Linked DNA regions of Homo sapiens. The protein of the gene in region 3 interacts with the protein of the main gene of each other region in a pairwise test. Each region holds a gene or a part of one and is shown on either strand. Other genes may lie near its edges.

The links.
Region 1: the proteins of TBC1D21 (region 3) and KIF26A interact in binary tests that used the Homo sapiens proteins (3 or more experiments, as listed by UniProt).
Region 2: the proteins of TBC1D21 (region 3) and GTF2E1 interact in binary tests that used the Homo sapiens proteins (3 or more experiments, as listed by UniProt).
Region 4: the proteins of TBC1D21 (region 3) and RAB3IP interact in binary tests that used the Homo sapiens proteins (3 or more experiments, as listed by UniProt).

What each region holds. Positions count from the first base shown.
Region 1 is NC_000014.9:104,176,216-104,181,955, forward strand, and holds the end of KIF26A (kinesin-like protein KIF26A), read left to right. Parts: coding exon 1-1,683; intron 1,684-2,334; coding exon 2,335-2,540; intron 2,541-3,020; coding exon 3,021-3,171; intron 3,172-3,393; coding exon 3,394-3,575; 3' UTR 3,576-4,679; downstream 4,680-5,740.
Region 2 is NC_000003.12:120,765,987-120,773,918, reverse strand, and holds part of GTF2E1 (general transcription factor IIE subunit 1), read right to left. Parts: intron 3,192-7,932; coding exon 2,990-3,191; intron 1-2,989.
Region 3 is NC_000015.10:73,875,883-73,883,814, forward strand, and holds part of TBC1D21 (TBC1 domain family member 21), read left to right. Parts: intron 1-5,516; coding exon 5,517-5,624; intron 5,625-5,761; coding exon 5,762-5,865; intron 5,866-7,932. UniProt on the Homo sapiens protein: Acts as a GTPase-activating protein for Rab family protein(s). Essential for the establishment of male fertility, and is required for both the production of normal sperm number and sperm function.
Region 4 is NC_000012.12:69,733,293-69,742,130, reverse strand, and holds the start of RAB3IP (rab-3A-interacting protein isoform alpha 1), read right to left. Parts: upstream 3,272-8,838; 5' UTR 3,100-3,271; intron 2,751-3,099; exon of another isoform or gene 2,285-2,750; coding exon of another isoform or gene 2,262-2,284; intron 1-2,261. UniProt on the Homo sapiens protein: Guanine nucleotide exchange factor (GEF) which may activate RAB8A and RAB8B. Promotes the exchange of GDP to GTP, converting inactive GDP-bound Rab proteins into their active GTP-bound form.

The DNA.
Region 1 (5,740 bases), on a different chromosome or scaffold from region 3:
CTGGGGGCCCCCCTGCCCTGGATGGTTCCCTGGGGGATGGAAGCTCTGGGTTCCTGGGGCCAGACAGACCTGACAGTCCTGGGCCAACCTGGGGTCCGTGCCCTGGGGAAGTGGCTGCAGTGGCCCCATCCCGACCCGGCAGGGAGCCCCAGGCCGGGCCCTCGCGGTGGGCATCCGCAGCCCAGACCATCCACTCCAGCCTCCCCCGGAAACCGAGGACTGCCTCTGCCACCACCCGTGTGGGCTGTGCTCGCCTGGGCCAGAGCCCACCTGGCCGTGGAGGCCTGTTTGAGGACCCATGGCTGCTCCGGGTAGGGGAGTGTGATACCCAGGCAGCTTCTGCTGGCAGGGCCCCCAGCCCCACACTTGGCTCCCCCCGGCTGCCTGAGGCCCAGGTGATGCTAGCCTGTGCCCAGAGAGTGGTGGACGGGTGTGAGGTGGCAGCCAGGGCGGCCCGCAGGCCAGAGGCTGTGGCTCGGATCCCACCGCTGCGGAGGGGTGCCACCACGCTGGGTGTGACAACGCCAGCTGTGTCCTGGGGAGATGCTCCCACGGAGGTGGTGGCCTGCTCGGGGAGCCTGAAGGCCTCCCCCACCAGCAAGAAGGGTCTGGCTCCCAAGGCGGGCTTCCTCCCGAGGCCCAGTGGGGCGGCCCCCCCGGCCCCACCCACGCGGAAGTCCAGCCTGGAGCAGAGGAGCAGCCCGGCCTCGGCCCCTCCGCATGCTGTGAACCCGGCGCGGGTCGGGGCTGCTGCTGTCCTTCGAGGGGAGGAGGAGCCCAGACCCAGCAGCCGGGCTGACCACTCTGTCCCCAGGGCCACGTCCAGCCTGAAGGCCCGGGCCAGCAAGGTAGAAGCAGCACACCGTCTTGCCGGACACGCGTCTCTGGAGCGGTACGAAGGCCTGGCGCACAGCAGCAGCAAGGGCCGGGAAGCCCCTGGGCGGCCTCCCCGGGCTGTACCCAAGCTGGGTGTGCCACCCTCCAGCCCCACACACGGTCCAGCTCCCGCCTGTAGGAGCGGCGCAGCCAAGGCTGTGGGGGCCCCCAAGCCCCCTGTTGGTGGAGGCAAGGGCCGTGGCCTAGTGGCTGGTGGGTCGCGGGCTCTGGGGCCTTCGGTGAAGCTGTCTACGGCCTCTGTGACGGGCAGGAGCCCTGGCGGCCCTGTGGCCGGTCCCAGAGCAGCCCCACGGGCCGGGCCCAGTGTCGGGGCGAAGGCTGGCCGGGGTACCGTCATGGGCACAAAGCAGGCGCTCCGGGCTGCTCACAGCCGCGTCCATGAGCTGTCAGCCAGTGGAGCCCCGGGCCGAGGTGGCTCCTCGTGGGGCTCGGCGGACTCAGACAGCGGCCATGACAGCGGCGTGAACGTGGGGGAGGAGCGGCCACCCACGGGCCCGGCCCTGCCCTCCCCCTACAGCAAGGTGACCGCCCCACGGCGGCCCCAGCGCTACAGCAGCGGCCATGGCAGCGACAACAGCAGCGTGCTGAGTGGAGAGCTGCCGCCCGCCATGGGCCGCACCGCCCTTTTCCACCACAGCGGTGGCAGCAGTGGCTATGAGAGCCTGCGGCGCGACAGCGAGGCCACCGGCAGCGCCTCCTCCGCCCCTGACTCCATGAGCGAGAGTGGGGCTGCCTCCCCAGGCGCCCGCACCCGCAGCCTCAAGTCCCCCAAGAAGAGGGCCACAGGTGGGTGCAGAGGTGCACAGCCCTCTACAGTTTACGGGCTTTCTGTGTGTAGATGTGCACAGCCCTCTACAGTTTACAGGGCCAGGAGATGCTGGACAGATGGGCACAGCCTTCAAGGTCCCAGACCCACACAGCCGTGGACGGTTTACAGACTCGCCTGGGGCTTTTTGTGTGTGGAGGTGCACGGCCCTCTGCAGTTTATAAACCCCCTGTACTTGCCCTTCTCTGGCCCCACCCTGCCCTGGGGGGCTGATCCTGGTCTGTGTCTGGGTGAGCACAAGGGCAGCCCTGCACAGGTCGCCAGGCTGGGGCACTGGACTCGGGTTTGGGTCCCGGGCCTCGTGCCTCCCTGGCGAGTGTCGAGCTGCCTGGAAGGCCCCCGCCAGGGCTGCCCCAAGGGACAGAACTGCTCAGGTCATGGCAGGGAAAGTGGGAGGCCCTGGTGGTGGTGGGGGCGCCCTTGAGAGCTGTGGGCCTGGCTTGGGGTCGGCTTCCTCCCTGCCCTGGGCAGAGCGCCAGCCTGAGGATTCCTGGACTGGATCCCGAAGGCCTCCCTGTCAGGACTCGGGCCGGCTCCGCAGCGTCCCCGCAGGGGCTGTGCTTGGGCTGGGCCCCGCCTCTGTTCACCCTGTGCCCGGCTCTCCGTTCCAGGTCTGCAGCGGCGGCGCCTGATTCCCGCCCCACTGCCCGACACCACTGCCCTGGGCCGTAAGCCCAGCCTCCCCGGGCAGTGGGTGGACCTGCCCCCGCCCCTGGCTGGCTCCCTGAAGGAGCCGTTCGAGATCAAGGTGTACGAGATCGATGACGTGGAGCGCCTTCAGCGGCCCCGCCCCACCCCGAGGGAGGCCCCCACCCAGGTAGGGCCTTTGGTGGGCTGGGGTCTATGACCCCTGGTGGGGAGCCTGCCGCGGATGGCAGAGTGAGCCATTTGATGGGCTCGCCAGGCCTCTGGGGGTGTGGCTGGGCAGCCCCTGACCTCACTTTCTGTCCACGTTCCTCCCAGGACGCAAAGGTAGGAGCGGCCCTGCCCAGCCCAAGCCTGTTGCAGCTCCGACACTCCCCTTGGGCAGTGGGTGGGTGGCTGGGGGGTCCTGAGGCCACTGCTGCTGTCCGCTGGAATTCTCCCCTGTCGTGGGGAGGGTGGTCCTAGAGCCGAGCCAGGACCCAGACGGGCATGGGTGGGCTGCCCCAGGTCCGCCCCCTGCCCGCCCTTGGAGCCCCACTGTGTGCCTGCCAAGGCCTGGCAGGTGAAGGGAGGCGGGGGCCACATCAGGGCTGCTTGGGGGTCTCTGGGGAGAGGGTCCCATGCCTGAGCCCCCGCCCGCCCTGCCTCCCAGGGTCTGGCGTGCGTCAGTACAAGGCTGCGGCTGGCGGAGCGCAGGCAGCAGCGGCTGCGGGAGGTGCAGGCCAAGCACAAGCACCTGTGTGAGGAGCTGGCCGAGACCCAGGGCCGGCTGATGCTGGAGCCTGGCCGCTGGCTGGAGCAGTGTGAGTCCCGCCCGCCCACGGACCCAGCCCGGCCCACCGTGTGCCCTGACAGCTGCCCTCCCCTCCCAGAGCCCTGTTGCTCTCCTGTACCTCGTGGTGGGAAGGCTGGAAGGCAGGGTCGGCCGGGCCAAGATGCCTTTCCTGGGGCCTCTGGGGGGCCAGGTGGCTGCCCCCAGCCTCGGGCCTGACGCAGGTGCCCCTCCCCTCTCCTCCCCTCCCCAGTTGAGGTGGACCCGGAGCTGGAGCCCGAGTCGGCCGAGTACCTGGCGGCCCTGGAGCGAGCCACGGCGGCCCTGGAGCAGTGCGTGAACCTGTGCAAGGCGCACGTCATGATGGTCACCTGCTTCGACATCAGCGTTGCAGCCAGTGCTGCCATCCCGGGGCCGCAGGAGGTGGACGTCTGAGGCTGGGCGCCGGACAAGAGGAGGGGGCGTGCAGCGGGCTGGAGGACGGGACGTGGGACGGAGCGAGGATGTGGTGGGGGCTGCGGGGGGAGGATGCGGAGGGGTTTCTGTGCAGGACGGGAGTCTCAGAGAGGAGACGGAGTGTGGGGGAGGGAGGGCCGGCCACGCGGTGGACAGAGCGAGGGTGCCAGGGTGACCAGAAGACCGTCACCACCCGACAGCAACGCAAGTGCCTTTGACCTTGATTTGGACTTTTCTCCCTTTTGCATTTGGTGCTACAGACTTGAGACACCAGCAGAAGTTGTGTTCAGCCCGGCCCCGCTGCGCCTGTCCGGGCCGGGGCTGGCGCCGGTTGTGTTTGTGTCCACCTTGCCTTCTTTGCAGCCAAGCAGTTTTTGTGGAGTGGAGTGGGACTTACCTGCACGCCCCAGGGGTCTTTCAGGATTCAGGATGACTTTTCTTTTACAATGGTTTCCTCTCGGCAGAGCCCGGGTTGTGGGGGATCTGTGTGGGGTTCTCAACGCAGATCCATCCTGGGGTCTCCCGGGCAGGGATGGCTGACCTCGAGTCCCCTCCCTTCCCGAGAACCCGCTCTGTCCCGAGGGCAGCTAACAAGGGCTGAGCCCCAGGTACAGGTTGCCTCTTCCACGGCAGGAATTTTTACCAAAACCACAAGCAAAAAACAAAACAGACCACCACGACCAACAACAAAGATGGGGGGTAGGGTTTTGTAAAGGTTCTGTTAGGTTCATATTTTTATATCATTTTGCCCATAAATGCGGAATTTGCCGTGGGAATTTGAAGACAAATGATCTATGTTTTTATGGTTTTCTAGGGAAGGTGTTCTGGGGGCCGGGCTCTCTCCAGCTGTGGGAGGCCTGCTCCCTCTGGGGGGCACCCTGGGCAGGGTGGGGGGGCCTTGGGAGGCGCTTCTTGCCAAATGCAGACGAGGGGTGAGCCTGCCAGCGTTTGCGACGTCCCCGCACGACAGGCTCATACTTTCTGAGGATCGTGCATAGCATAGGACGTCTGAACCTTTGTACAAATGTGTAGATGACATCTTGCTACAGCTTTTATTTGTGAATTAAAGATGCATCGATGGTTCCCACGGCTGCCGAGTTCACTGGGCGTCGGCAGACTCCTCACGCCCTGGTGTGCCGCCCTCTGAGGGTCCCTGGGGTGACGGGCAGTAAGCGTGGGAAGGACACATCCACGGGGACCCAGGGCTTCGGGTGCTGTGCCAGGGCCTGCCTTGCAGCCCCTGTGGGGCCCACGGTGCCATGAGGGCCCTTCAGAGAAGGTGGAACACGACAGAGCTGGGATTCAAGCCCACGCTTCCTTTCTGATCTGCTTTCTTGTTGACTCTGCTGAGATCTTAGGGTCCCGAGGCTGGGGCAGGGAGCCAGGCTTGGGGGCTGGGCTGGCGGGAAACAGCCCTGTGTAAGCGGCCCCTGGCTCCCTTGTCTCTGGGTTATGCTGTGTGGGGAAGTCGAGGCAGGAGTGATGGCAGCATTTCCCTCCCAGAGTCTTCTTGCCATCCTCTGCCCTCTGCCTACCTTTGCTCATGGGCTCAGGACCCCCGAACCACAAGAGCCCCCTCCCGGGGCAGCCTGGATGGAGGCTCTTCCCTGGAGGACTCAGGCCTGGGTCTGTCTTGACCCCAGTTTGCTGGGCTTTCCCGTGGTCAGAGGCCCCAGACCCTTTGGGGGATCCCCAGCCCTTTGACTGCTGTGAGCTCATGGCCTCACCTGACCTGTACATGTGCCCTCTGGGGCCACCTTAGCTGTTGCTCTGGTTGCCTCCTGGCCTCTTCGGAGTCCTATCTGCTTCTCATTTGGTAGGTCCCCAGCGGAACTAGTTTGCTTCCTTAAGCCTGTTACTCTGTCCCCATGCCAGTACCCCCCGCCTGCCTGGCCTGCGAAGGTTGTGTCTGGGCACCTGCCCCTTTCTGCGGCTTTGCACTGGCTTCCAGCTGCTCCACTCCACCTTCAACCCGAGGTCCTGGCCATGAGGCCCCACCATCCCCCGTGCTGTGATCCCCTGCCCAGAGGCTGGCTGTGCAGCCCCTCCCTCCCTTGGGGACTCCCCCTGTCCCCGGCTAGGTGCCCCTCCCTGGCTCCAGGCGGGGGATGGTGGGGCCCCTCCTTGGTGGAGGCTCCTAGGCC
Region 2 (7,932 bases), on a different chromosome or scaffold from region 3:
CACAAGAGTACTTTTAAAAAGTCTTTTGTTTTTAGTATTCTGTCATAGAAATTCAAGATGGGTTTTATTCTAGTTTGAGGCAGCAGACATTTGACCATAAGTCAAACAAATTTTAAAATTTGGAACAATTTTAATTGAAGATGACAAAAATGACAATTCATGTTTGAATCTTTTTATATTATTTAATAAATTTTAGAACTTTTAAAAGATACAACTCTTACTCAGAGATGAGAGGGGAATATTATTTCAAAACTAAATTTTTAAAAATCTTTAAGGTAAGTGTTAAGAGATGATGAAAAAGGGAAGGTTACTAGCAAGGAATTCCACTCTAGAAAGATAGGAAGATTTTTATATCTCATCAATAGGTTGACTTGCTGAAAGGATAGAATTGTCCATCAATTCTTGGGTTAGGCCTACTGACAGTTCTGCAGAGGTAGCCCCTAGTTTCTGATCTAGGGACAAGCTAGAATTTAACTGATTACAGATCAGTAATCAAACTAATAATATTGCCACTTATTTAAAAAAAGAAAAGCTATCATCTCTGAGTTCCCATACCATTCTATTGATGCCTCTTCTCTTGTACTGAGGCAGGATGGACTATTACATCCTTGGGGCAGGATGGGCCATTTCAAAACTTCATACTCCTATAGTACAGAAAGGCCAAATCAATACCACCTCCAGGATGTTATATCCAAGCAGTGGAATTTGTCAAATGCTTTGGTGGGGACATTATAACCTGGGTAACATCTTCTAACCTAATGGTTTTTTTCCTGACCACGTGGAAATGATTTTACTTTGGTCTGGCTGGCAGCTCTAGGAACCCCATTCTGTCTTTCTTGTCTGCCTCCATTTCCTCCCTTTTTTCTTAATGACCAGATTTTTGGGTATCCTTTTTTCCTGATCAGTTTATTTCCTCTATTTCCTGGTTCTTCTTCATCCCTGGAGTCACCATCATTCCTGATAAGAAGAAGATGACTTGATACAGAGAGCTGCTGTTGGGCCTCTGGTGTCACTGTACCACTAAGACTCATCCAAGGCCTGCAGTGAGTGGGGGATATGGAAATAAAGATCCTGGAAGGGGAGCTGGATTGTGGTAGGTGGAGAACATTAGAGACAGGAAGCCAGTGGTGGTGGTGACTGAATGCTATTGTAGTGGGGAAGCATCTTGATAAACAGGACAAATAACTACAGGTAGGAGAGGAAACATCAGAATAATTCAGATAGTATATTGTGTAGGAAGCAATCAGATACTACACTGACGCATACTTCAACATGAAATAATCCATAAGCTTAGAAAATTTTGTATTTTTGTAAAATCAATTTCCCTCATAAGCTTGTATGTTAGAGCTACAATATAACTTAAAAGGACTGAAAAAGATACAAAAAGAAAAATTCCTTTTTCAAAAGAGGAATTCCTTTTCTTACACAAAAAGAAATAAATAACCAGTACCAAAAGTTAAGGCTATCTGTGATACAGATGTTATTAGTTTCCTATCAACTGTGGCTCCTTTCTTTCTTTGCTTATTGGTTTTATTAAAATACCAATGGCAATTTGCTCCAAAGAACTCTGGGACCTTCCCCAGTCCTAGAAGGTAAACCTTAACTAGTCTAAGTACCAGTCATGTGATCTCATTTCCTTTGCCAGCTGCTGGTTTAGAAATATGCATATAAAACAATTGCAGCCAGTGAGACATCAGGGGATAAATAGAGTATCCTAGGGAGCCCTCTGGGAAACCTTTCTTCAGTTTTAAAATAGGACACAAGGAAGGGACGGTCCCTTTTTCTGCATTTGGACATTGTCATCTGCACGTGATACCTAGAAATACATGGCCATATTAGACTAGCTCCCCTCATGGTCCCAAGAGGATAATCAACAGGCTGAGTTCAGCAGAGTATAAAGATGGAACAAATCTAGATCCCTGAAGATATAATTGAGCTGTGAAATTAACCAGTTTTGAACTGTACTACTTCAAGACTTCTAGTCATGCAAGACAAATTTTCTTATTGTTCAATCTACTGCTAGACTGGATTCTAATTCCAACTAGAGCTGGATATTCTGTTATCACAGGCAAAGGCATCCTAACTGACACACGGTACTGGATTAGAAAATTCATAACTCTTACAGATACAAAATTTTCTGTAGAATTGGATTGCTTTGAACCATCTAAAAGGAGCCCAATTTACTCAGGACTGGCTATTCTGTAACATCAGTACCACAGGAAATAAAATACTAAGAATGCTCCTAAAAACTATACAAATACAGCCTGATTGTTGAGCTCTTTGGAAGGGAGTGGGTGAAGTGAAGGTTAAATAAAGATATCCCTTACTTGATGCTGGGAAGAGGGAGAGAAAAAAAAGGGTAGAGTAGGAGAGCACTCCCTGACCCCAATTTTCATTTATGCTTTTCAAGAAAGAATATAAACCACCTTTTCTGGCATGGCAAAACTAAGGTTACCTCTGAAATTCAAACATTAGGGAACACTGATAAAAATAGGGAGCCACTGTTAGGAGTATTAACCCATAGGTAACACCAGCTATACTTTACTTTCAAGGAAGTTGCAATTACAACTAAGAAATAAAGGTGATTAAAATGCTTCAAAAACAAAAAAGAAAATGCTGAATTCCTTAAAGGCCTTCAGCCTTCAGAAGCTGGCTAGGAAAATTCAAATATCCCCAAGCGGCACAACTAATTTAGGATTAGCTAACAATTGGCTGAGTTGCTGCAGTCCCAAGCAGAATGAGTACTTGAAGTCAAACCTAAATATTTAAAGATTTTTGCCTGAAGTCCACAGTGTTCTGCATTTAGAACAAACGAATTTCATCACAGGCACACGTTAATCAGACAAATGTGGCACAACTGAGAACCTACGTAACATTACAGTCTTGAGTCTCCTAGTAAATTACCCACTCTTGTTCTCCAAGGTACAGGTAGTTAAAACAAGAACAGGTTGAAATGTGTTCTTAGTAAGAGCACAGGGCCTACACTCACCTCTGTTTCAGGGCTGGGATTTCTGTGGGTTCTGGCTCAAGTATTTCATAGGCCAAGTTCACATCCTCTGTCTCCCGAAGCAATGCATAAATGGGCTCAATTTGTTCATTAAACCTTGCCAAAAGTGTGCGTGCATCTTTTTTGGGCATTGCTGATTCATCCTCTTCTACCTCTGTATGGCAAAAAGTACAGCGGAAAGTTCCTACAGAGAAAACAAGTATCTCAGGTCAGAGAGAAGACTTTAGCAGATAGTTTATACCTCCACCCTCCCCCAATATCTTATTATTAAAACTTTCAAATATACACAAAGGTTGAAAGAATTTCACAGTGAACAGCCATGTGACCACCATTTAGATTCTACAATTAGCATTTTGCTATTCATCACATATCTATCCATCTATCATTTTTGATGTATTCAAAGTAATTTCATCCCTAACTTCAGCATAGTTTTTAATCACAATATTTCTAATATGTATTTATTTTAACTTAAAGCCAAATTCTTTACAGCTTACCACCACAACTTGTACCCTTTCCTGGCAGCTTTAGTCTTTTTTGTTTTCACATTACACATTTGGGCCTACGTTATGGGGAAAGCCAAATAAATACCTAAAACCAAGAGTTTCTAGTCATCCTGAACATTGTCACAGGCTATTTTTTAAAATTTATTAACCATTTGTATCTAATCAATTCAATCTATTATGCTAAAACTCACACTCTTAAACATTACTTAACAGTCTACACCACTAGCCACACCTGGATTTCCAGTTTGGTTCTTATTCCCAAAGACAGGAATATGCATCCTTCCTTTCTGACTCAACTTACTTGAAAGATTAAAAGGGAACATGTAAGTACTTAGTGTCTGGCAAATAGTTAAGTACTCAAACATTTAGCTATAAAAGGCCCCATGTATGATTGATACATAAAGAACAAACAACCAAGTGATCTCTACTTCAACATAACACTAGATCCTACTGATACATTACCAGTATAATAATTTTCTTTACTGCCCCTCACACATAGCCAATAGCATGTAAATTATTTGTTCAAATACCCTAAAATACATCTTCTTATTGTCTAAATGCCACCTAATCTACATCTATCCCAAATAAGTGAGAAAGAGAGAGAAATGCAGCCCTTCACAGCTAGGAGGTGGCTCAGCACTCACAGCTAGACTGTGGCATTTTTCTGTCAAACAAGATCTCACAGATCACTAACATCAGACTATGATGGAAGTGAGGCAAACCCAAGCCACTGTGGAATTGCGTCTGAGAACAGACAAAAGCAAGGACTCCATGCAAACCACAAAAAATCCCATCTTGCACAAGTGACTGCTGCTTCTTTACCATTTAGTTTTAGCGTCACTCTGTTCTTGTCACCTCCTAGATAAGATTTATGAAGATACCCAATCATAGAATTATCCCCACTTCTTCACAGCATCCAATCCAAAGGAAACCTTCATCACTTCCCTGAATCCTCCCCAAAATTACCCAACAAAAGCCCACATTCTCTAAGTCTGTCCAACATCATCTTACCGACATTTCATGGTTTCCCCATGGTATGTGGCTTCCCTTGCTGCAGAAAGCATCAATAAACCTAACTTTGTTTACTACAGGTGCGTACCTGATAGCTTTTGACTAATGGTCACGAACATAAAGATTATAACTTAATCAACTGGACAAGAATACTATTATACCAAAGTAAAGAGAGGAAGAACTAGCTTTTTTTTTTTTTTTAGGTAAAAGATATCAAATTGCTTTAAATATAAAAATGAATATGTAAAAAGCCAACTAATTACAAATGCTAACAATTCAGCTCAAGAGAGGGGTTTAGACTACAAATTTAGATATGAGAATCAACAACCTATAGGTGGTAACTGAAGCCATATAGTAGATAGAAGCATCCGAAGAGATTAAGGAGAGTGAGAAGAAGCAGTTAAGGCATAAACTCAAGGAATGAGGAATCCTTGAGAAAGAGAAATGGTGCAACCAGAGTGACAGGATGGTGTTTCAAGGAAATGTATGGTCCTAATATTAAGAGGCCAACAAGAGTTGAAAACTAGCTTTTATATTTGGTAACAAAGGGTAAGAAGCAACCTTGGCTAGAAAGGTTTTAGGTAGAATGTTATCTTATATTATTCTCCAACTGTTCCAAGCTGTCTCAGCCTCTTCTCTTCAACAGAAGCAAGGAATATAATCATGTGGGGGCTTAAAAATAAACCACATAAAGTAGGGTTGAATATAGCTCTCGAATACCTGCTGAATTAAAAAACACACCAATGTGAGACTGGGACTTAAATTGACTGTTGAAAAATAAGCACCTACAGAGACTGTCAATGAGAACTAAGAATAGTTTGGAAGACAAGTTATCTAGTTCTGTAGTTTTCAAAATGTTTTTAAAGAAAGGAATCTCATTTCTCAAATGGAAAGGTGATTAATATATAAACATAAAAGCAAATGCTCTGGGGTAAAGTATAGAAACACAGCTAAGACAAAGGTTAATACTCCAACCCTCTCATTATCTGTTTTCAAAGCATCACAAACCGGCCTCCTCAATGTCTCCCATCAGGCACACTCTGCTGCAGAGCCTTTGCACTGCTGTGCCCTCTACCCAGATGCCTTCCCTCCAGAAAATCACATGGCTCATCTCCAAACTTACTTCAGTTCTTTACTCAGAAGCCACCAGTAAGGCCTTCTGTAGCCAACATTATCTAAAATTTCAACTGTCTTGTCCACCCAAACAATCGTATCCTCTTTCATTTTCTTTTCCCTTAGCATTATCATTATCCAACATGTTTTATTATTTATCTAATTTATCATTAAAAAGTCATGTTATACCCGAATTTTAAAAAAATGTCCTCCCAAATACCCCATTTCTCATTTTAAGACAATATGTACTCCAAACTTCAGCTTTAAGTAAACAAATCAACATGCTTGTCAGTGTAGCTCATCCTCATAAAACAGCAGTGCTTTTATTTGGGGAAAAGAGAGAAAGAGAACAACACTAATATCATTATTTCACAGAAGGACAATCTCAGAATGACAGTCCTTTAACTCGAGTAATTTATTTTCATGAAAAAGAATAGGGGGAAAAATAAAGTATATAGTCATAAGGCACCTAAATTCTAATCTCATCCAAACTTAACAGGAGTTACTTACAGAAGGGCTGATTTTGCAGGTATGAAAACAGCAGCTTTAACATTATTACTAAGAACTGTGAAGGGTCTGAGATTTTACCCTACTTGTAAGCTAACAAGTTATTCTGCCAGTTTCATGGATACTGGCAGAAGACACAAGACCCCAGGTCAGAGACAAAGAACTTCACTACTCAAGGAAATAGCAGTAGCCAGTGTCAGTATTTAAGCCAGTTCCCCATGCCCCAATTTCCATGGGGTGCGATAGAAGGGCCAGGTAACAATTACACATGCAATGGGTTGTGTTACAGGAAAGAGAGCCTGAGCTTAAAAGGAACTCAAATATTTTATAATGGGCATAAGCATGCCCATTCTTTGCACTGGAGGGTGGCATTATCCTTACTTACTATAAACTCTATGTAAACATGCTCTGGAAGGAGACACTTTTTATACTGGACCATAAGCAAACCTGCTCTTTGCTCTGAAGAGAAATACTATCTCTGTCTTGCAAGGCTGCTCGTTATATAAACATCCTTGAAAATGATAGTCCAGGAAAAAAAGCAGTCAGTCTGTATCTCTGCTTGCCAAGACATGCATAACATGTGAGAGACCCATGGAGAATAGTCTCCCAATAAATACCACATCTAGCAAATATTACAAAAGGAAAAGCTAGCCTGACATCTCTGAGCCCTGTGTTTATCACAAAAACATTAGTTATAAATGAGAAGCCTGTCAAAGCCAAATGTAGAATTTCTTATTTTTCTTCTGGGACCCTAAAAAATGCAAGAAAAGTAAGAAATTTGACATTTTACAGAAAATGACTTAAGACCAGTTTAATATACCAGCAGCATTTTTTATACATTTCACTACGCATTGTAAAAATGCAAATCAGTTTTCCTGAAATCAGAAGGGGCAAGTGGCAAGGGGCAGGAGGACACGGAAACCCAGCACATACTATGTAGCAAGCAGGCACCCACGCTACTGAGAGAGTGGTGGTGGCATACACAGACAGAACCAGTCAGCAAGAAGCTTTAGTAGGGAAGAAAGATGTCTGGAGATAAAACAATCAGGGATCAGTGCAAAAAATAAAGTACATAAATGTTTTGGAGTTCAAAGAAGGAATGTGACTTCTAGCTGAGGACACTAGGAAAAGCTTATTGAGAAGGTAAACCTTTTTGAGAGACAGTTTAGAAGATAAAAGATGAAGGAGAAGATGAAGGGGTAAGGGAACAGGACATTCTAGATCATCATAAGAGAAGTAGGGTGGTTGAAAAATGATGTTAGACTGCAATTTCAGTCTGATAGGAAAACAGTTATCAAAAAGAATGATAAAAAACAGACTTAACAAGATAAACTGGGGTGACCATAAATTGGTCTTGAATGATAAGCTTCATTTTGACTTTATTCTTTAGTAATAGGAAAGCCACAGAAGGGTGTTAGGAAAGACACTGAGGTCATGAAAACTAATATTTACATATATTGATCTGCCTGAGTGGCTTGAGATGGCCTCTCAATAAGGCAGTTCTTAACTGAGTGTCTGCATAAAAATCCCCAGTGGAATTTATACTCAGGCTCCATGCCACAAATGCTGATCCCAGAGGTCCAGAATGGGGCCCAGGAATTAGAATTTTTAAAGTTACACAAGGAATTCTGATGCCTACACCTGGTAGAGAGCTGCTATTAAGCAATATGATAAACATCCCAACTTTTCTTGTAACTAGACCATTCTACACTAAGTAGTGTACATAGACTATACTACTCAAGAATGAGAGAAGATACTGAAATTGAAACTCAGAGCTCTGCACAATTTTTC
Region 3 (7,932 bases):
AAGATGAAGGTTGATTTGAGAAGCCACTGTGTTGACAATCTCCGTCACATTAAAGGAGCCCAGATACACATTCTCTGATTTCTAGCATAGGCAGGTAGGTGGTGTGCATGTAGAGAGAGGGCTTCTAAGTGACATTTCCCCCTTTGCCTTCTGCGGGTCAACAGCCTTCTTGTTCTGGTCCTTGGCTTGCTAGCAAGTGTCTGAGATAGTCTTGTGGGTGGCCTATAGTTTGCTGAAGTTTGGAGAGATACAGGGAACTGGTGGGTGTAGAGAAATGGAGTTTCCTAGAAGGAAGAATCAGTGACTTTTTTTGTGGGTTTTTTTTTTTTTTTTTTTTTTTTTTTTTTTTTTTTTTTTTTTTTTGAGACGGAGTCTTGCTCTGTCACCCAGGCTGGAGTGCAGTGGTGCGATCTCAGCTCACTGCAAGCTCCGCCTCCTGGGTTCACGTCATTCTCCTGCCTCAGCCTCCCAAGTAGCTGGGACCACAGGTGCCCACTACAACACCCGGGTAATTTTTGTTTTTTTTTTTTTGTATTTTTTTTAGTAGAGAAGGGGTTTCACCATGTTGGTCAGGATGGTCTCGATCTCTTGACCTCGTGATCCACCCGCCTCGGCCTCCCAAAGTGCTGGGATTACAGGCGTGAGCCACCGCGCCCGGCCGAAGCAGTGACTTTTTATAAACAAATTCAACCACGGCAAAGTAGGCAGATGGCCAATTGTTACAGGTAGAGGTTTAGAAATGCAAATTCTCTGAATACTCAACAGATGTCTTCTTGTGATGTTTCTAATTATTTCTGCCTTATTGCGTTGATGCTGTATCTTTTGTTACGGTGTGCGGTGCATATTACTTTAATTTCAATATTACCTCTCCATTGTGTTTGACTTTTTTTCGTATCTTTGTTCGTCATTTATTTTTTAATCATTGTAGGGCATTTGATTTTAAGGTATTTCTTTTGTTCACAGCTTGTGTAAGATACATATTTTTTATTTGAGTGGAAAATCCTTGCCTTTTAATTCCTTCCCACTGCCCCTCCCACCCCCAGCATGGCATTAGGGTTAAGCCTCTGACTGTTGCATCAAACAGCTTAGGGTTCAAACTCCAGCTCTGATACTTTCTGTATCTAATCTCAGATATGCTAATTAACCCTCCTGTGGTCTCAGTTCCCTGATCTGTAAAACAGTACAAGAACTTTACCACTTCATAGATATTTGCGAAGATTAAATGGGTTGATATATGTAAAGTGCTTAGAACAGTGTCTGGCACATCATCAATTGCTTTTTAATGTTTACAGCTAATAAGAGAATGAAATGCATTTATTTTCATAATTAATTGCTTTGGGTTTCTATCATTTTTATGCTTTATACTTTTATTAATTCCTTGTTGTTTCCTATATTGCTTGCTTTTATTTTTTAAAGTGAGTTGGAAGATGTCCTGTTCCTATAAATTCCTAATTTTTAAAGTAAAAAATAAAGCAATTTCTTTTGACTCCATCCTAATATCTAATAAAGAAATAGAATCTGCAATTAAAAACTTTCCCACAAAGAAAACTTTAGCCCAGATGGCTTCACTGGTTCTACCAAATATTTTAAAAAGAAATAATACCAATTCTATACAAACACTTCCAGAAAACTAAAAAAAAAAAAAAAAAAAAAAAAAAAAAAAAAAAAGAAATCCCTACTCATTTTATGAGGCCAACATTACCCTGATACCAAAATTAGAGATCTTACAAGAAAAGAAACTCACAGGCAAATGATTCTTGTGAACATGGATGCAAAAATTCTAAATAAAATTTTAGCAAATAGAATACAACAATGTATAAAAAGCATAGTATATCATCACCAAGTGGGGCTTATCCCAGGAATGTGAGGCTTACTTACCATTCAAAAGTACTCAATATAATTTACCATACTAACAAACTCAAAAAAAGAAAACCATATGACCATTTCAACAGATGCAGAACATTATTTGACAAAATCCAACATCCATTCCTAATTAAAAACTCTCAGCATGCTAGAACTGGAAGGGACTGTCTTCAACCTGATAAAAGGCATCTGTAGAAAGCCTAGAGTTCACATCATACTGAACTGTGAAAGCCTGAATGCTGCTCCTCTAAGATGAGGAACAAAGCAAGAATGTCTTCTCTCACCACGTTTATTCAACATTGCACTTGAGTTCTAGCCAGTGCAGTAAAACAAGAAAAAATAAATAAAAGGTATTCATACTTGAAAGGAAGAAGTTAAACTGCCTTTACTCACAGATGAACATGCTCATCTATGTCAGAGTTGGCAAATTTTTTCTGCAAAGGTCACAATAGAATTTTTGGCTTTATGTCCACGCAGTCTCTGTTGCAACTACTCAACTCTGCCATCATAGCATGAAAACAGCCACAGACAAAAATGAGTGGGTGTGGCTGTATCCTAATAAAACTTTATTTAGAAAAACAGATTGGAGGCCACATTTGATCCATGGATCATAATTTGCTGACCCCTGGTCTATGTCAAAAATCCCATGGAATCCACAAGAAAGCCACTACGACTACTAAGTGAGTTTTACTAGGTTGCAGGAATACAAGATTGATATATAGAAGTACATTGTATTTCTATTAGAAATTTAAATTTTAAAATGATACTTTTTACAGTAGCATCTGAAATATGAAATACTTATGGATAAACTTGACAAAATATATGAATGACCTAGACACTGAAAACTACAAGACACTGCTGAGAGAAATTTTAAAAGACCTACATAAACAGAGAAATATATTGTGTTCACAGGTCAGAGGACTCAATAATGTCATCAATTCTCCCAAACTGGCTTACAGATTCAATACAGTCTCCACCAAAATCACAGCTGCCTTTATTATAGAAATGGACAAATTGACTAAAATCCTTATGGAAATGCATTTCTAAAGTTAAAGCATTTCCTTTTATAGTTAAGGATCCCGGGACACAGCCCAGCTTTGCCTGTTCCCTTCTGCTTCCTGCCACATTGCATGCTGAGTGTTGCAGTTTCTGAATGAGTGTAGGTTGGGAGAACATGATGACAATCAGAGGGGCAGAAAGCTTGCTCTGATGAGTGGCAGTGTCTATGCAGGTGGGGAACACATCAGGGCAGACCCTGCTTCCCAGGGTTAGGCCCACACCGAGATTTGTAACTTCTTGGCCCATGTGTCCTATTTTGGTTCAGATGACAGGGCATACATGAGTTATTAAAAATGTGTTTCTCAATCCATTTCCATCAAATATACAGTTAGTAGAAATTATCCCAATTTGGAGCCTGTAGGCTCTTATTTTTAGTTAACAATGCTGCTTTGCCTTCATTTATTTATTTATCTATTTATTTGAGAAGGAGCCTTGCTCTGTCACCCAGGCTGGAGTGCAGTGCCATGATCTTGGCTCACTGCAATCTCCGCCTCCCAGGTTCAAGCGATTCTTCTGCTTCAGCCTCCTGAGTAGCTGGGATTACAGGCACCCCGCCACCACACCCAGCTAATTTTTGTTTTTTGTTTTTTTTTAGTAGATATGGGGTTTTATCATGTTGGCCAGGCTGGTCTCGAACTCCTGACCTCAAGTGATCTGCCAGCTTGGGCCTTCCAAAGTGCTGGGATTACAGGCGTGAGCCACCATGCCTGGCCTGTTTTGCCTTCTAATACTTTACTACTCATGTGGTTTGTGGACTAGCAGCATCACCTGTTACTCAGGAGCTTGTTAGAAATGCATCATCTTGGGCCCCACCCCAAACCCTCTGAATCAACTCTGCACCTGCAGAAGATCCTTAAGTGATTTGTACGCCAATTTAATTTTGAGTCACATATTCAGATGTATACTAATGGGAAGTTGGGAGTGTGTATATTTACATGTCTACTCAGCTCTGTCCATCAGCACATCTTTATGTCTGCAATGTGGCATTTCAAGATATTCTTCTCTCCAGCAGAAGAGAGTATCCCAGGAAGAAAGGAATCTTCTCTTATTCCAACAGGAACCCTCACTCCTGTTGTTGTTGTTGTTGTTGTTGTTGTTGTTAGAGATATTATTATTATTATGTGCTCTGTTGCCCAGGCTGGAGTGCAGTGGTGAGATCTCGGCTGACTGCAACCTCTGCCTACCGGGTTCACGTAGTTCTCCTGCCTCAGCCTCCAGAGTAGCTGGGATTACCGGCATGCGCCACCATGCCTAGCTAATTTTTGTATTTTTAGTAGAGACAGGGTTTCACCATGTTGCCCCAGGCTGGTCTCGAACTGACCTCAAGTGATCCACCTGCCTTGGCCTCCCAAAGTGCTGGGATTACAAGCATGAGCCACTGCACCTGACCCTAGTTATTATTTTATAAGCATTTTGAATTACTTTGCATGCAGTGCACTCACCTCTCTCCAACACATACACACACACATGTTCACATACACATAGCACACAGATATATACCACACACACACACACACACACACACCCTTATCAAAAGCAGAGACTATCTCTCATAATGAACCATTCTACATTTCCAGGAAAGGTAAAGTGGAGCTCATAACTGTGTCTAATTAATGCTTATTTTATATTTTCCTGTGATCAAAGCAGTGTACATTATTATAGAAAATTTTAAAAATACAAGAAAGGCCAGGTGCGGTGACTAACGCCTGTAGTCCCAGCACTTTGGGAGGCTGAGGCAGGTGGATCACCTGAGGCCAAGAGATCAAGACCATCCTGGCCGACATGGTGAAACCCCCTCTCTACTAAAAATACAAAAATTAGTTGGGTGTGGTGGCGCGTGCCTATAGTCCCAGCTACTCAGGAAGCTGAAGCAGGAGAATCGCTTGAACCTGGGAGGCAGAGGTTGCAGTGAGCCGAGATCCACCACTGCACTCCAGCCTGGCGACAGAGTGAGACTCCGTCTCGAAAAATAAAAAATACAAGAAAAAGGATAAAAAGTACTTATTTCCTATCACTCAGAGATAATCACTGCTGTTTTTAGTGGGGGAGAGGAACTTTTTTGTATTTTCTCAGTCTTTTTCTAACAACTTTATAGTAGTCAATGCATTATATATTAGAGTTTATGTGGGGTATTATTATAATATATAACGGACACAATACATAGGTATTACTATGAGGGCCATAGTTGTACTATATAGTACATAGAGAAAATGCTAGATATACAATTCTGTATTCTGCTTTTTTCTGTTAACATTTGTATTTTTTCTGATTATTATTCATTCCTTGTAAACAACACTTATATGCCTCAAAATATTCCATTAAGCACATAAACCACAGTTTACTTAACTACCCCCTTATTGCAGAACATTTAGAGTGCTTGCATTTTTCATGTTGGTGAGTAATGTGCATGAAAATTATTGTGCATACAGGATTTTTTCTATATATTTTCAGTAATGTCCTCAAGATAGATTTCCGAAGTAAGTCAGGCTGTGCGCTTTGATACATATTGCAAAGTCCAGAACATATTATTTAAAATCACACTTAAAAGCCGAAGCCTTCTAACATAAGGCAGAACTGGTTGCTGCTTTTGCCAGGTGAAGAGAAAACCACCCATTGACAAGACAGAATGGGACAGCTTCTTTGATGAGAGTGGCCACTTGGCCAAATCACGGGACTTCATTTGTGTTAACATCCTGGAAAGGGTGGGTCCCCAAGCTACCCTTGGCCTTGCCCTGGAACTGGGAGCATGGATGGGCAGGGGGCAGGTGTGGCGTTGGATGAAGCCCTTTTGGTAGGCATCGATAGAGCCCATGACCTCCACCTCCCACCCCCACCCCAGGGTCTGCACCCCTTCGTGAGGACTGAAGCCTGGAAATTCCTCACGGGCTACTTCTCATGGCAGAGTTCCCAGGATGAGCGGCTCACGGTGGACAGCATGAGGAGGTAGAACACTCCAGACCCTGCTGGGACAGGAGGGGGGCCTGCAGGTGGCAGGTGCTGCCTCCCCAGCCTGCAGACTATCTTCTGCCCCCATGCAACTTCTTATTCCGAGAGGAACCCCATGCCTCCTGACCCAGGCACAGCACACAGGAGGTGCGGCCAGTTCGTGCCAGTGCCTTCTCTCCCTGAGCTCCATTTACCAGCCCATCAACTGCCAGGCATGGGCTTGGTCCCAGCCACTCCTCTTACCCCTGGGCCCCAAGTCCCATCCTTCCTTATGGCCTATGCATTCTTCCTCTGAAGCAGCCCTTGAACAGAGTCTGCCACCCTCTTCCCTGGGTGCCACCCCAACTCCACCTCCTCCCTGCCCCCCATGGCTGAGCTGCCTCCCGGGTCTAGTCTCCCCACTCCCTGCCTGTGCCCACTGTTTCCTCCCGGTGCCCAGGGGAAGGTACAAAACCCAGTATGGGCTGCCTGTGTCCTTAGATGAAACACTCCCAGTGGTGTAACTGGTAACGTTTCAAATAGCACATCTTCTCTTCCAAAAACTTCCTGATCCTAGCTCCACATCGCCCACTATCCCAGAGCCTGACATTCCAACCACACTGACAGCCTCACTGACTCCTCATCTGCCCACTCCTGCCCCAGCACAGACCACGTTTGCACTCCCCTCTGTCCTTGGTTCACCCTTTCTCCTCCCTCCACAATGGCTTTCTATCATCTGCCTATCAGTAGCCCACCCTTCCTTCAAGGCCCAGATCCCACAGTATACCTACTCCAAGCAGCCCTCCCAGATCTCCCAAGGGAGCCAGGGATGAGGCACTTTGTTTCAGTAGATAACACACCATCTTTGAACTTGGACCGTCTTGGATTTGGAAACCGGGTTCAAATTTCAGCACTCTGATTTACACCCTGGGTAAACTTGCCCATGAACTTCAGTGCTGAAGTCTCAGTCTCCTCCTCTATAAAATGCAGGTAACAATCTATTTCACAGAGTGGTTGTGGGGGCTCAATCAGATAATACAGGTAAGGCACCTTGCACAGGGGAGGAATCAGTAGCTTTTATGATTTTGATGGGAATCCTCCCTCCCTGAAGCCGGAGGCCCTTGACTTGCACTTCCATGACCCTGGGCACTTGGTCCCACAGTAGTGAGAACGGAGCCTGTGTCTTCCCTCCCAGGTTGAATGCAAACAAGGGCAGAGGCTGCAGCCAGTTTGCCTTTGTCTTGGGCCCTCTCCTGACCTTGCCTGTCCATGGGAGGGCTCCGTACACACTGGCTGAGTCAGACTGACTCCACTGCTGAAAATCTTCCCATCAGAGGAACGGACTCCTTTGGATTGTGGCTGCATGACTATGTAGCCTGGGCTGGACTCACCTGTCTGGGAGCCTGAAGCAGGGGCTAGGCCCAGCCCCAAGGGAGCATCCAGACAGAATGTGGAAAAGATTCACGTGTCGGGGCCAGCCAGAGTGACCCGGGGTGGGACGGGGGTGTGAGGGCTGGGCTAGGGAGCTCAGAGAGGTTCAGGAGCTCTGACAAGAGCCCACCTGTGTTCATTTCCTGAGGCTGCCTTAGCAAGTACCACAAACTGGGTGGCTTCCGACAACAGAAACCTGTCTTCTCGCAGTTCTGGAGCCAGAAGCCCAAAATCAAGGTGTTGGCTCCTTCCAAAGGCTCTAGGGTAGAACCCTTCCTTACCTCCCAGCTTGTGTGGCTCCCGGTGTTCCTCAGCTGGTGGCTGCCTCACTCCATTCCCTGTCCCCATGGTGGTGAGACCTTCTGCTTTCTGTGTGTTATAAGAACACATGTCATTGGATTTGGGGTCCACCTGGAAAGTCTTACGGATCTCGTCCGGAGATCCTTGACTTAGTCACATCTACAAAGACTCTTTTCCCCCACATGGTTACATTCACAGGTCCTAGGGGTTAGGACATGGATATGTCTTTTTGGAGGCCACCATGCGGCCAGCAATACCAACTAATCATATTCTAATAATGAGGACAAAACACCGCCTCACTCAGCACTTCCAATTCTGAGGCACAGGTGCCAGTATTATGCCCATTCTACAGAT
Region 4 (8,838 bases), on a different chromosome or scaffold from region 3:
CTAGCACTTTGTCTTAGTTGACATTCATTAAAATATGTAAAGTGCGTTCTACATTTTGAAGAACTTATAAAAGATATGGGAATGATTATAAGGCCCTACCTTCCATATTCCTTAAGAACAGTTTCCTTTAACCCCTACTGTGACTTGCAGAGTAGATGCTCAATGAGTATTTGATTTAAAAAAATCTCTGGTGACACAATGAGAATTACATATTACATTAACATTACGTATCTCATAAAAGCTAAATTACAAAGTTCTTCAGCATTATAAGCTACACATAAAGAAGTGATAATGTAGTGATTATGAGCAAACAATTCTTTAGCATTACCACTTATACATGAAGAAATGACAGAGTGTAGTGGTTAAGAGCACAGACATGGAAGACAAACTGTCTGACATCTAATCTAGACCTGTCACTTAATTAACTATGTGACGTTGAGCAAACTACATAAGGTCTCAGGGTCTCAATTTTCTCAACTACAAAATAGGGATAAAGTATTATCTCCTCGCTCACTCTGAGAGTAAATGAGTATAAAGCTTACACCAGGACTTCGCTTGATAAGCACTAGACTTAAAAGTAACTGTAGTAGCAATGCTGGTATCACCGTCTTCAGAAAACTTGGATATTTTTAAACCAGAAATACAAATGGTAACACTTGTCATCTGTGTGCCTCCTTATAGTTACAAAGCTCTTTAATAGAAGGTGCAGACCAGGAATGTAAGAAACAAAAGCACTACGTTCCATTTTGGGCAGTCGGATACAGTTTTTAATACCGGCTCTGTCACTGGCCAGCTGTACGACCACCTACAACTAAGTAACCATAGACAAATTATCGCAACTTTCTAAGCCTCCATTTCCTGACTTGTAAAATTTGATAAACCACCTATATCCCGGGAATGTCCAGAGGACTGAGGAGTCAAGGTATCGAAAACAAGCACACACAGTGCCTTGCACACAATCAAGCTCACACTGGTTCCTTCTCCCCTTCCCCACATCTCTAATGGAGTATGTTATTAAATCCTCATCTTACCATTATGAAGTTCATATTAGGTTGAAACATAAAAAACAGCAGAATATTAGCAATTTCAACCTAATAGTATTTCCACTGACAAATGGAGAAAATAAGCTCAAACAGGTTAAATGTTTTACTCAAGGTTTTATGCACAGTAAGTGATGGAGCTGAACATTAAATAATTTTTCATTCAGCCAGCTCACTAATTTGTTCACTGACTCCTGTTGAGGAGGAAAAAAGTATAGTAACTACTATAATGCATATAAAACTACTGTAATCTACAAAGTATTTTTTCGTGCCATATTTAAAAAATGAGGGGGTGAAACATTTCTAAGAACCTTTCCATTTTAAAAATTATTTGTAGAGGATGTGTGTGTTGGGGGAGGATGAGAGTTTAGACAAAATCAAAGGTAAAGAATATTAAAGGAAACATATGGATAACTGCACTAATTCAAAAAGTACAATAGGATCTATTCAGAAATCCCACAAAGCAGCTAAACATTAAATGGCCATCCTGGTGAAAGATTACAAGTATTCAGTACCACAGATGAGTTGTTTACCAAACACAGAAGGAAGAGTTGTATCAAACACTTTGGTTCACAAAGGTATACATTAATATGTAACATTACTGTAATGGAAAAAAATGCAATGGCTTTTCATTTAATAGTTAAAAAATGGACTACTTAATTGTATAACTGTTTATTTCTATAAATTCCACAAGGGCTTTAGGATTAGATCACATAAGCCGCATCTGGAATACACTGTCTGTCCAAACATGAAAAGTCCTATCAAAATGCACAGTACTAGTAAATAAATAACAAATGATAACAGAACAAGGCCCCATAAAACTGGTGAAATATTTAACAGTATCAAATATTTACTACGATTGGTCTACAACCCTATTCTGCCTCTTTTCTCCTTGATTTGTCATTCAGCACTGGAAGAAAAAAAAACCTTCATGAACAACAAAATGAGAAAAAGGATAATGAACAAGAACTGGGTCTTTCAACTGATTTACAATGGAACAGTTTTGTTGTAATCCTCTTATGGGCCCCTCCTCCAATTATGCAATCATTCCACTGCAAGAGATTACAAGGCTTTTAACCCGACACTGAACGGAAGGAGTTGGGGTGAAACAGGAGAGTGTATAACAGGTAGCCTCCGAACAGGCAACATTTCCATGAAACTAAATTGCCTCTCAGTAATCAGTACTAACTAACTCAGCGCTCGTGTCTTTCAAGACCTTACCCTTTCATCTTTTTTAATCCCATAACAACCGGCAACTCTTCACATGCTGCGACTTCCACCCAGCATCATCACTTCTGGAGCCAGTAAGCTCGCGCTTCCTGGGCGGTCGGGGCGAGTTGTCAACGCTGGGAGGGCAGAGCCATGCAATCCCACCCGTGCAGTTCGTCTCAACTCCCCCGAACACAAGTCTGGCGGCACGGAGCTGCCTACTTGGGCGCGACTCCGGGCGCCTGCCCGGAATTTCCCACCAGGTTTCACCGAAACCTCCCGAGGGTGACCTCTACGCCTCAGCACGGTGCCTCGCGCGTAGTTTCCTAAGACTGGGACACGAAACCACCCCAGGTCCACAGCCCTGCCGCGCGGCGTCCGGTGTTGTGAGCTGCTTCCGACTTGTTCGGGAACTCTCTCTTCATCCTCTTCGCGACCGCGGCCCTCCGCTCCCGGCCGCGCCCGCCCGCCGCCAGGTAACCCGCTGGACTCGGGCTCCCTGCCCCGGGCGCGCGGGACCGCGCAGTTAATGTGTAACGCGCCCGTGCCCGGGGGAGGAGCCGCCGCCCGACGCCCACCAGCAGCCCAGGGGGCGGCCGGCTGACCCGGGTCGCCAAAGTCCCCCCCACACGCCGCCCCCAAGGGCCCGGAGCCCAAGTGCCCAGGCGGAGAGCGAGCTCACCGGGCCTGGGCATCCCCCCGAACCCCCGCGTGCCGCGCCCTGCACGGCGCCAGCACCTGCACCTGCCGCGGCCGCCCCTCCTGGCCGACTCGCCAGAGGCGGGCGCGCGGGCGCCGAGGGGGGCGGTGCTCTACGCTCCGGGCCTCTCCCTCCCGCGGCCGCACTCACCTGAAGAACCCACCGCGGCCGCTGCCGGCGCTCAGGGGCGCTCACAGAGCCGCAGAGAGCGCGTCCCGAAGCAGCGAGAAACGGAGGAGGACGGCGAGCCCTTTCCGCTACACTCCACGGCGGCGGGCTCACTACGCCGGCAGCCGCCGAGGGAACGCGGGACTGCGCCTGCGCCGGAAGCGGGGCCGGGGGCCGGGAGCCGGGAGCGGCCGGTCCTCACGGAGGGAGGGCGGGGTAGGGGGGTGTGGCCGGCAGGGGCGGGGCGAGCCCGGCATGGGGCCTGGGGGCGGACGCGCTTCCGCGCCCCCTGGCGCCAGGCGGGGCTCGTCGCAGGTGTCACGGCCCTGGCCCGAGGTTCCTCCGCGGGCGGTTTCCCTGGGAACCAGCGCGAGCCGGAGCTGCGCTCTGTTTCGTCGGGCCCGCGCTCTGTTTCGTCGGGCCCGCGCTCTGTTTCGCCGGGCCCGAGAGGCGGCCTCAGGTTAACTTCAAGCATGTTGGGCTCTCCAGGAGGGAGAAGAGGCACCTTTGCCGTGGGTTGAGGACTCCTAGAACCAACCTGAGACTCCGCGGCCATATACACCTTACGACGTGTGTGTGTGTGGCGGGAGATGGGAGGGGAGGAATCCTGTAGAACCCAGATCCCATCATTCCAGCAACTGCCAGAGCGTTCGAGAATGTCATGTCTGTACCTGTCTTCTCTCATCTTTTGTGCCAACTGTTTTATCAAACTTCTACCCCACTTTAGGTCTTCCAGGTAGGAAAAATACAGAAAGAGCCAAGATCCCAAAAATCAAAAAAAAATAATAATAATAGAGGTAGTCATAGTATGTGTCTCTATGTTTAGCAAAAGAGAAACGTGCATTTGTGTGATACACTTATTGAATAGGACCATCATTCTGGGTATTAATCTCATCTATTAGAGGCAGTAAAGAAAAGTAGACTATATGTATGGTTGTTGGAGTCAGAATTACTGGGCTTGAGCCTGCCACCTGCTAGCTGAGTGACCTTAGGCAAATGAATCTCTCTAGCCCCAATTTTCTCATCAGTGAATGAGTATACAGAACCTGCCTCACTGAGTCATTAAGAGTTTAAATGGCTTAATTCATGTAAACACTTTGCGTACTTCATGACACAGAGTGCCTAATAAATATTAGCTATTGTTATTATACCATTATAACTATTATCATGCATCTGTAATCCAGAAACCTAGAAAGCCAGTGTTTCTTATTTTATACCCCATCGCCAATATATCACCAAGTCTTATTCATCCTAATTTCTAAATAATTCTTAAATCTATCTTATCTGATATTCATTGCCACTAGAAATGACCTTTCTCATTAATGGATTCCTATTCTCCCTTACACCTCATAGCTGGTCATTTATTCATCAGACATTTTATTGCACTCCATCTGTGTGCCTCCTGTTAGACATAGGGACAGAGAAACCATTACAAAGTCCCCACCATCCACGGACTCAAACATATATAGGGAGACAAGTATGTCAATAGTAGCTACGTGAAATGAATAAATTAAATATACAGCAAACCACTTAGGCTCCCCAGTCTTGCCGTACTCACATACAACCCTGTATTTCCATATGCTGTTTATTTTTATGTCTTGATCTCCTACCTTTTCCTTGCCTTGCTAATTATTTGTTATTCATTATTTAGCCTAGACATCAATTCCACTGTGAACCCTTCCCTATTGTTGGCCACTCAGCCCTATCCCAGCCACTCCAGTATGGGCTAAGTGCCCCTACCAGGGCTTCCATAACACCGTATCTCTTTGTAACACTTATCACATAGAGTTATAATTGTATCTGTATTTCTCCATTTTCCTGGACTGCGAGCTTCTTGAGAACAGGCACAAGGTCTGACATGCAGTAGGACTGACTCAGTAAATGCAGAATGAGTGAATGGCATGCATGCAGAGTGCAGTCTTGGTATGTGAATGTTTAGAGGACAAGTCCTATGATATATTCTACATAAGACCTAAGACATCATGATCTATAGGAAATAGTAAGCAGTAACCATATATGCCTGAGTCCTGCGTTGGTCCATTTACAAATCACCTACCATCCATGAGGCTTTTTGAAATATACTGAAAGATGTTCCTCTTGAATACTTAACCTGTTAGCGCTGTTTGAGAAGAGTGATATAGATTGTTACCTATAATAATACTTCAGTGTTCTTGCAGCACAGAGACCAAGATACATTACAGAATATTAGACACTCAGAATCTCAGCCTACAAAGTATGTAAAGGGCTGTGAGCATCTTAAGTTTGATAGCTTACCCATATATAAAAAGGACAGCTATTTCACAAAATTTAAAAATGTGAAAGATTTGGATGGGCACGGTGGCTCATGCCTGTAATCCCAGCACTTTGGGAAGCCAAGGTGGGCAGATCCTTGAGGTAAGGAGTTCGAGACCAGCCTGGCCAACGTGGTGAATCCCCATCTCTACCAAAAAAAAAAAAAAAAATCAGCTGTGCATGGTGGCACACACCTGTAGTCCCAGCTACTTGGAAGGCTGAGGTGGGAGAATCACTTGAACCCGGGAGGCGGAGGCTGCAGTGAGCCGAAATCACGCCACTGCACTCCAGCCTGGGCGACAGAGTGACACCCTGTCTCAAAAGAACAAAACAAAAGGCCGCACGCGGTGGCTCACACCTGTAATCACAGCACTTTGGGAGGCTGAGGTGGGCAGATCACCTGAGGTCAGGAGTTCAAGACTAGTCTGGCCAACATGGTGAAACCCCATTTCTACCAAAAACATAAAAAATTAGTCGGGCATGGTGGCTGGCACCTGTAATCCCAGCTACTCGGGAGGCTGAGGCAGGAGAATCACTTGAACCTTGAATCACTTGAACTCGGGAGGCAGAGGTTGCAGTGAGCCGATCGCGCCATTGCACTCCAGCCTGGGTGACAAGAGTGAGACTCCATCTCAAAAAAAAAAAAAAAAGAGTGAAAGATTTTATAGTGTGCTCAAGGTTGCCTTTTTCTCTTTATTTTTTTCTCTTTATTTTTTAAAAATGTAAATTATACAATTAGTGTCAAATATAACGTATAAAATAATATTGCTTTTTTTTTATCTTAAGACTTTCTCATTTATACCTTGGGCCAGAAAAAAAGCAGATGAGTGCAAATATATAGACATTGTAAATTGAACAAACCATTCTAAGGTTGTTACCCTTAGTTATAACTTTTATTACTTGTTTGCCTCTGTTTTGTTTTCAGAGTTAAGAAAATGTATTTTCATGGTATTTTCCAGTTGCAAACTGACTTCATGTTAATGATTACATGAGTCTTGTACAAAAAACAATTTGATGCAGGTGGAAAGGTAGTTATTCTTCATTTTTGTGGATGGGGAGCTTAGGCCACCAGAGTTAGGGCCCTGGTGTTTGGAATGCAGGTTAATATCTTATAAACGAATGAAGTGAAAACATATTGAACTTTTGTGTCCAGTAGTATGGCAGACTAGAGGCTCTGGCTGATTCTCAAACCCAAAGCAATATATATAAATATATATAAAACATCTTATCAAGCATATCAAAGAGTTGGCAAGAATATAAGAAACCCTGAAGGGCAAAAACTAGGTGTAAGTGAGAACTCAGACTGGTAAATAGTAACAATGCAAAAATGAAATGGAAAAAAAAGACAGTTATGGGAAAAATGTACCAAAAGTAATTAATCTATCATTTCCTTGTCTGCCAAAATAGTCAGTGAGTGCCAGTGCTTGTGTTCTCATAAAAACTGACTTTTGCAACTCCTGTAAAAAAGCAGAGCAATCTCAAAAGTGTCTGTCATGATATTAATTATGGACAATCCTGTATTTCAGGCCCCCTTTCTGATGTTGGAATAAGTGACTGGGAAAAATTGGAAAGCTGAGAGAAAGGGTTTAAGAGAGAGCTTAGACTCTAAAAAGTATGATTCCCCCCTTCAAAAGAATCACTTTAACAAGCTACATATATATAACAAAACGTTTTGAGAATTGACTTTAGATCCAGTTTATCACACACACAAATTGCCATCCATCAAACAAATATTTATTTGTAGCTTCTCTGTGACAACTGTGTAAATAATTTTCAGTAAGAAGGAAGAGAAGGAGAGATGAGACACAGTGAGAGGGCTTCCTGGCCTCCCCTTACTTTTTAATTCCAGCTATCGCTCTATTACTGAGGCTTCCTTCATCCCTTCCCATAGGTTCTGTGAGAAATCCTTCTGTCCTTAAAATAATTCTCCCTTTTTTGCTTTACATAGCTTTGAATGATTCCTATTACTGCCACCAGAAAATTATCCTAAACTATATATTTTCATACAGGGATTGATTTCTGTAGCAGTTAAAAAGCTCAAAGTAACAGTAGCTTAAAGAAAATAAAATGTATTACTCTCACATCAGTGTAGGTGACTCTCTAATCAGCAGATCCATGGGCTCCTTCCATCATGTGGCTTTACCATCCTGAAATGCAGCTTCTACCTTATGATCCATCATGGCTGTTCAAGTTCCTTATATCCTTTTTCCAGCAAGCATAAAGGAGGTAGGGGCAGAAAGGAACACACGTGTCTATTCTAAGCCACTTACAGAAGTTGTATACATCACTACACTATGCTCCCTTGGTCAAGTGTAGTCTCTATTGGGTAGCCATGTGCCCAGCTAAAAATCAGTGGTTCTAACACTAATGAAGAAGGGGAGAACGTATATTAAAGAGAACTAGCAGTCTCTACTTCATCACCTGGCATGAGACTTAGGATGAGAGAAATGGTGATGGGGTAGAACATACAAATAGAACAAAGGCGGTGTTAGGAAAACATGCAGTGTGTTCAGAGATGGTAAGCAATGCAGCTTAGTTGGCTCATGGAACAAGTGCAGGTGGATAGATAAGCCTGGAAAGATATGCAGGAGCCAGATTGTGGAAAGATCATAAATGCCAGGCTGAAGAATATAGAATTTGATAGAAGAAGGTTTCTGAAAGATTTTTGAGCTGGAGAGTAAAATGATCAAAACAATGCTTTAGGAAGACTTGTGTTGGCAATGCCTAGAATATATTTGAGGAGAGAATGACTACAGGCAAGGAAATTAGATAGGAAGCTACAATGAGATAGTGCCTATACTTCATCAAAACAGAGAAGAGGAAACATTTCAAAGGATGTCTAATGCAACAAGTGATTAGATGTCTCACACCTCTCTCATGCACACACACACACACACACTCACACACAGAGCTTACTCAGCGTCCATTATACCTTTTTGAGATCAGCACATTGATGTTACTTGGAGAAGCATCTTTCCACCATATTTAGTCTGTATGATTCCAGTGGAACTGAATTCCCCCAACTCCAGGGGTGAATATGTGACCCAGGCTTGACCAATCAGAGAATCCTAGTCTCTGTGATGGATTCATTGATAAGCAAATGACTCAAGTAGAGCCAATAAAAGTCAGTTCTGGGAGTTTTGGGTTAATGTTGGGAAAAATGAATCTATGTGGATTGCTGAGAAAATCAAATGTAAGCTGCTGGCAACAATCTTGCCCCCATTGGAGAATATGCCTAAAAATGGAACTAACATGGAGACGGCAGATCTGAGAGAGAAGAAAACGAAGTGTGAGTCCTAATGACATCATTTTACTTCCTGGATCAACCTGTGACTGAAGCCAGAGACCCTGGAATTTTTAGTTACATGAACCAGTAATTTTATCTTCGCTTATGCCAGATTATGTAGGGTTTTCTGCCACTAGCAACTG